Regions from separate parts of the Homo sapiens genome. Here region 1 is linked to region 2. Evidence: fine-mapped expression QTL. A gene starts in region 2. The other region holds a variant in brackets. All regions are shown on one strand. Distances are between the middles of the regions.

The links.
Region 1: its variant is fine-mapped to the expression of TIMM10B in esophagus muscle (GTEx, PIP 0.95).

The regions. Positions count from the first base shown.
Region 1 is chr11:6,506,928-6,509,844 of GRCh38, forward strand. It overlaps DNHD1 (dynein heavy chain domain 1), which reads left to right. Exons shown (of 43, transcript NM_144666.3): 5 at 1,953-2,156; 6 at 2,235-2,345. Among named protein-coding and RNA genes, the nearest start is that of DNHD1, 11 kb to the left of the region's middle. The variant G/A (reference allele first, on the strand shown) is at 1,485.
Region 2 is chr11:6,479,969-6,482,885 of GRCh38, forward strand. It overlaps TIMM10B (translocase of inner mitochondrial membrane 10B), which reads left to right and starts at 1,533. Exons shown (of 3, transcript NM_012192.4): 1 at 1,533-1,587; 2 at 1,789-1,884; 3 at 2,077-2,917. The coding sequence starts at 1,549. The coding sequence ends at 2,253. ARFIP2 (ARF interacting protein 2) reads right to left here and starts at 1,363. Exons shown (of 8, transcript NM_001376558.2): 1 at 1,263-1,363; 2 at 355-495; 3 at 4-100. The coding sequence starts at 453. RefSeq lists enhancers at 956-2,155, 992-1,111, 1,592-1,641.

The DNA of each region.
Region 1 (2,917 bases), 27 kb after region 2:
TAATTGCCCAGATTAGGGACAGATTTGGTGGGGGTAGATATTGAGTTTAGTACAGAACTTGCTGAGTTTCAGGTGCAAGCAAGATGGAGTTTGAGATGTTTTGGAAACAGCTGAATCTTTGGTTCTGGGACTCAGGAAGATACTGATTTCCCCCATCTACTCTCTAGTATCATGTCATACTCCAGTTGATTCTGAGCCCTTTGAGGACAAGGACTATGTAGAAGTCATCTTTATGTCCCCATCTCTGACCACAATACTTGAACAGAGGGACAACTTGATAAACGGTTTAACTAAGTTCCATAAAGTCAGGGACTGGATTTTTCTTGAACACTGCTGTATCCTCAGTGGCTTACACACTGCTTGCCTTAATAAGCATTTGTAGAATGAGTGAATATCCTCCAAAGGATATTCAGCAAAATGCACCTATATCCCACATTAAATGCAATACATATGGATTGATATAATAGGTGTATCTAGTTACAGTAGGCCAGTTAGCATAATGCTATGTTTAGATACATTTAATAAAGCATTTATTTTTATTTTTCAGTTTTCTTTATATAACTCAGAGCTAGCAATATTTTTAAGCATTACATATATATTTGGAGTATATTTTATACTCCAAAGGAGTAGTGGCCATTGGGAATGAGAAGAGTACTGTATAACTCCTGGCCCTACACAGAAACAGCAGCCTCCATTAAGTAGGTCATAGGAAAAGGAAATATCTCTTGGGAAGAGCCAGGGCTCAGTTAACATAGGCAGCTACACTGTGGGAAGCTAAATGGCCCACTGATTAAAGGAGGGGGCATGAGTCAGGTAACTTTGGTTTTAAATCCTGTATTCTTCCCTTAACTGTCTTGGGCAAAGCTTTAACTTCTCTTTGTTTCAGTTTTCCTATCTGTAATTTGGGGATATGAGTACTATACTTAAGAAACTTTAGTAACTTTGTCAAAAACAAAACAAGGTTTTTGTATGACTTGACTTAGTGTGTCCATTCTGGTATCTATCTAAAAGTTCTTAAGTCACTTGCTTAACAATGTTTTCTAGAAAGTTGAGAGAGATGAGAGATAGAGGAGAGCTATTTTATCTCTTAGACATTATAGGACTTAGGATACAGCTTTTAAATTGCTAAAAATATATGTAATGCTTAAAAATATTGCTAGCTCTGAGTTATATAAAGAAAACTGAAAAATAAAAATTAATAAATGCTTTATTAAATGTATCTAAACATAGCATTATGCTAACTGGCCTACTGTAACTAGATACACCTATTATATCAATCTATATATATTGCATTTAATGTGGGATATAGGTGCATTTTGCTGAAGTAAGAGAACCCAAGACCAACTAAGATTTTAAGATGGCTCTGAAGGTACTTGTCTAGTACATTAGGTTGCAATTTTCCTCTTTATTTGCCTGTTTCGAATTTTCTAGTCTTCCTCTGCTTTTCTCCAATCTCAGTTTTTCCATCAAATAACATTCTGATT[G/A]TCTCTGCATGTCTTTCAGTACCCAAGTATATGTGTATTTTATCATGTCTAGAATGAGGATTTTTCACATTTCATCATCTCTAAAATTGTGATGCATCTTACAAATTGATGGAATATCTTATTAGAAGCATTTTTATCTTAGCATTTCATAAGATAATGCTGCAGCTTACGGTGGACAGTGTCTTAGATCTGATGGGATGTAAGATATCTGCATTTGAAGATATGAACTTCTTGGAGCTGGCTAGGTGCCTTTTTCTTTCTTCCCATCTACCTTTGGCTTCGGTTTCTTCTTAATAATATTTGTTTCATCTTTCTAGTTTAAAAATCATTCTGCTCTCTTTGCCCCTTTTTCTCCTTTCTTCTGCCTGCCTTCCTGTTCCCCTTTTTCATCTCCTGTATCCTCCTTTGGTCTCTTAAAGTCTGACCACGTTCCCAGGGCCTTCACTGATCAGAGCTCTTTTTTTAAAGGCCTTACAGCCTGATGGTGGTGCCACCCGACAAGGTGAATCCCGAGCACTACATCTTCTCTCCCTTTGGGATCTTGCATGTACATCCTGTGGAAGGTAGCGAGACGATGACACTGGGTACCTGGCACCATCACTGTGTTCTCTGGCAGCAGCTCCAGTTCATTCCATTCTTTAAGTATTGCCTCTTACGCAAGTCCTTTACCTGGTAGGTAATGACGGATATGTGATTTGGGGGGAAATGGATGACAGCAACAGTATATTATCACTGACCTCTAATTTCTAGTTGGAAGAAGAATGTGAGATTACAGGGGCTGCATCGACTCCAGAAATTCCTAGAGAATCATCTGCTCTTGGCTGTGCCCCACTTTGGAGCTGGGCTACTCCATATTAGCAGGTGAGGTATTAAAAACACAACTTCATTGAGTTTTTAAAAATTAGTTTTACTAAAGGTAATAGTATGTTTGTTGTAGAAAATCTGAAAGATACAAAAAAGCACTAAGAAAAAACCTTTAATCCTACCAACCACTATGAACATTTTGTTGCATATCTTTCTAGTCTTTTTTCTATCACATACACAAAATGTGATCATACCTTACATACTGTTAAATAACCAGTTTTTTCTTTGAACATATATTCTGAACTAGATTATATTCTATTTCATGAATAGAATATATTCTCTATGGAGAATATATGCAATATTCTCCAGGTAATTATATATCTTAAACCACTTGCACTCACGTAATTATGTGTAATGTCAGATCTGGGGGTCTAATTCAGTTGTTTGAATCCAAACTCTGTGTTCTTTCCAAGATATTACTTGGATTCTATTTTTCTTTTTTTTGGAAAAGGTTGGTTATTCCTATTTTCAGTATTTCCTTGCTTTCCCTACATGACTCCTCAGCTACTCTTAGGTATATTCTGTGACAGGAGTTGCAAATTCAGTTGCCTAAAGGGCCTAAGCAGGAA
Region 2 (2,917 bases):
TACCTGTGGGGATGAGTCCATCACCAGAGCCCCCATAGCCACCAGACACAATGCTGGTTTCATTGAGGTTGGGTCCTGACACCATCACCTGCTGGAGGTCCTATAGGCCAGAGAAGAGGGGTTGCTTCAGGAACATAGGGGCTGCAGAAGCATTTTGGAGGTGGGAACAAGTTTGGATTCAAGCATCATAAAGATAGTACACAAGGGAAGTCTGCACAGAATCAAAATGATACGTAAAAAGAATGAAGGGAGTCAGATAAGTCAGGGGAAGGCTACTGGAATGGAGGGTGAGAACCTAGGATTTATAAATTGGATTCCTAAATTGAAACAATTAGAAGAATCAAACAGAAGCACCTGCTCCAGCCCATCATCTTCAGGAAGCTGCCTGGCTTCGCCGTTCCCGTGGATAGGGATCTCCATTGTGGCTGCCTTCCCTAGGATCCCGTCCGTCATGGCTAGGAAAGGTATTGGAGTAAAACTCTCCACCCCAGCACCCTGCAAAGCCCAACACAGAAGTTCTGGACACTGGCCAGCACTCTAGAAGAAGGAGGCCTCCTCTGTCATTTCTTTAAAGGCTGTCCCAGGGTTTGAGTGTCCCAGCGTTTGGCCATCATTCCTTTCTTCAGATATATGTATTTCTCCCCTCCAAAACGCACATTTGAAACAGGCACACCAAAGCACGGTGTCTTCTCACAAGCCCCCAACCTCACCAGGACTCTGGTGATTATTTCTACACTCATTCAGCAGACATTTAGTGAGTGCCTACTATGTGTCAGGCACTATTTGTGACAATGAAAATACAACAGTGAAGAGGGAAAGTCTGCTCTCTTAGAACTTATCTCCATGCAGGCGTGTTTATGCTGAGGAGATGAACCCTTTCCAGGGCTCAGGTCTTCACCCCCCTATTCAGGTTTGTTCTCCATTGCTTGGCCTTTCACATTCCTTTAGCGTTTCTTCCCCCTTCCTTCAGGGGGTCTCCCCTCCTCCGTCTCATACACCTCGTCTTCCTCGGGCCCTCCCCACCAGGCCTTAGTTAGATCAGTGGGTGTATGTTCCCAGTCTCTGGTAAAAGCCTCTCTCTCCCAGGATATCGGTGACCCTTCCACAGTCAGTTATGTCTCCCAGGTGTGTGAGTCCCCGCCCCCACCCCCATACACCTGGACATCAGGTGTGTCCTCATCCTTCCCCGGGGCTCGGGGCATCTTGCCCTCTGGACAGGTTTGTGCGTTCAACTTCCCGTCGCCCAAGCATGTTCCTCTCACCTCGGGCCGGGCCGCTCTTCCCCTCAGGGCGCCAGGCCCGGGCCGCGCGGGGACCTCGGGCTCCAGTTCCCGTCGCGATCCTAGCAGCAGGTCAGGGACTCGGCGGAAATGACGTCCTCTCCGGGCAGAAGAAGCCGGCCACGTCGCAGATTATAAGGGCGGAGCTGACGTCGCAGCCAGGGCAGGGCGATACTCGAGCTAGCTCTCGAGATCAGCGAGAGGTTACTTCCGGGGCGGCACCGAGAAGCTGAAACGGAAGTGGCGTACGGCATGCGCCGGTGGCGTGATGGAGCGGCAGCAGCAGCAGCAACAGCAACTGCGAAACGTAAGTGAGAACTAAGTCGTTTCGAGGCCAGACGTTCAGCTCGCATTCCTGCACACATCGCGGGAACCCCACAGGGCCAGGGATTTGAGGGCTGGAAACTTCGGGCTATGGCGCGCGGGCCTGGGAAACTTTGGGCGGCGCGACCTTGACTAGAAGTGTGGGGCCCTTATCGCTGAGTTTGTGGTCCCCCTTTTCTCTCAGCTGCGTGACTTCCTGTTGGTCTACAATCGGATGACAGAACTCTGCTTCCAGCGCTGTGTGCCCAGCTTGCACCACCGAGCTCTGGACGCTGAGGAGGTGGGGAACTGTGTAGGGAGGTTACGCTGCAAGAAGAGTTTAGCGGTAGACTGCTTCCCTCCTCACCCCACTTCCCGTACCTCTGGCCCTGGCCTTCCCACGACCCTCACCCCTAGGCTGGGCATGGGGAAGAAAGGAGGCGGACCCGACAGGGCACCTTTATCCTCCACTTAAACCCTATCTTCCTTCTAGGAGGCCTGTCTGCACAGCTGTGCTGGGAAGCTGATCCATTCCAACCACCGCCTCATGGCCGCTTACGTGCAGCTCATGCCTGCCCTGGTACAGCGCCGCATCGCAGACTACGAGGCTGCCTCGGCTGTGCCAGGCGTTGCTGCTGAACAGCCTGGGGTCTCTCCATCAGGCAGCTAGCCATACCCAACCCCAGGAAGGAAGGCCTTGGATGGACCCTCAGATTGAAGGACCCGGTGGACCTTGGGGTTGGTGAATCCTAAACAGAGAGAATTCGAGGTTGCCTGAAAGCTGGGTGTCCTTGCTCCTTTTCCTGGAGCCAATATACCCAGTTTTTACTCAGTTTGATTTATATTCTGGGCAAGGAAGCTTTGCCTACTTTATTGGCACAATCCGTTGTTCTGTCGTTTAGTGCATATCTGCTGGCTTCAGCCCTGGCAGCTGAGAAATTGTTTTCTATATGTAGAAGGAAAACCTGAGCATTTGCAGGCATCTGGTTAAAGCAGGGTCTGTGTGTACAATTTTAAAACGGGTAATATGTCATGCTCTTAGTTCATCTTCACAACAAAACTATGAGTAAGCGGTATTAGCCTCACTTAACAGATGAGGAAGCAAGATTCCAGAAAGTACCAGAAGGTCATTTTATACAACAGGAGATTGGTTCCTGCCCAGATGACAGAAAATGGGAGCTCTGTCTAGTTGTCCTTAAGTCTGACTGACTTCAGTGGCTCATAACCGTGAGCCAAGTATTTGTTGGTTCATAACTGTTGTTTTGTGAACTATGTCTTACATGTCTAGAGTTCTGCTGGATCTAGGGAAAGGAGGAGCTATCGAAGTACAACGG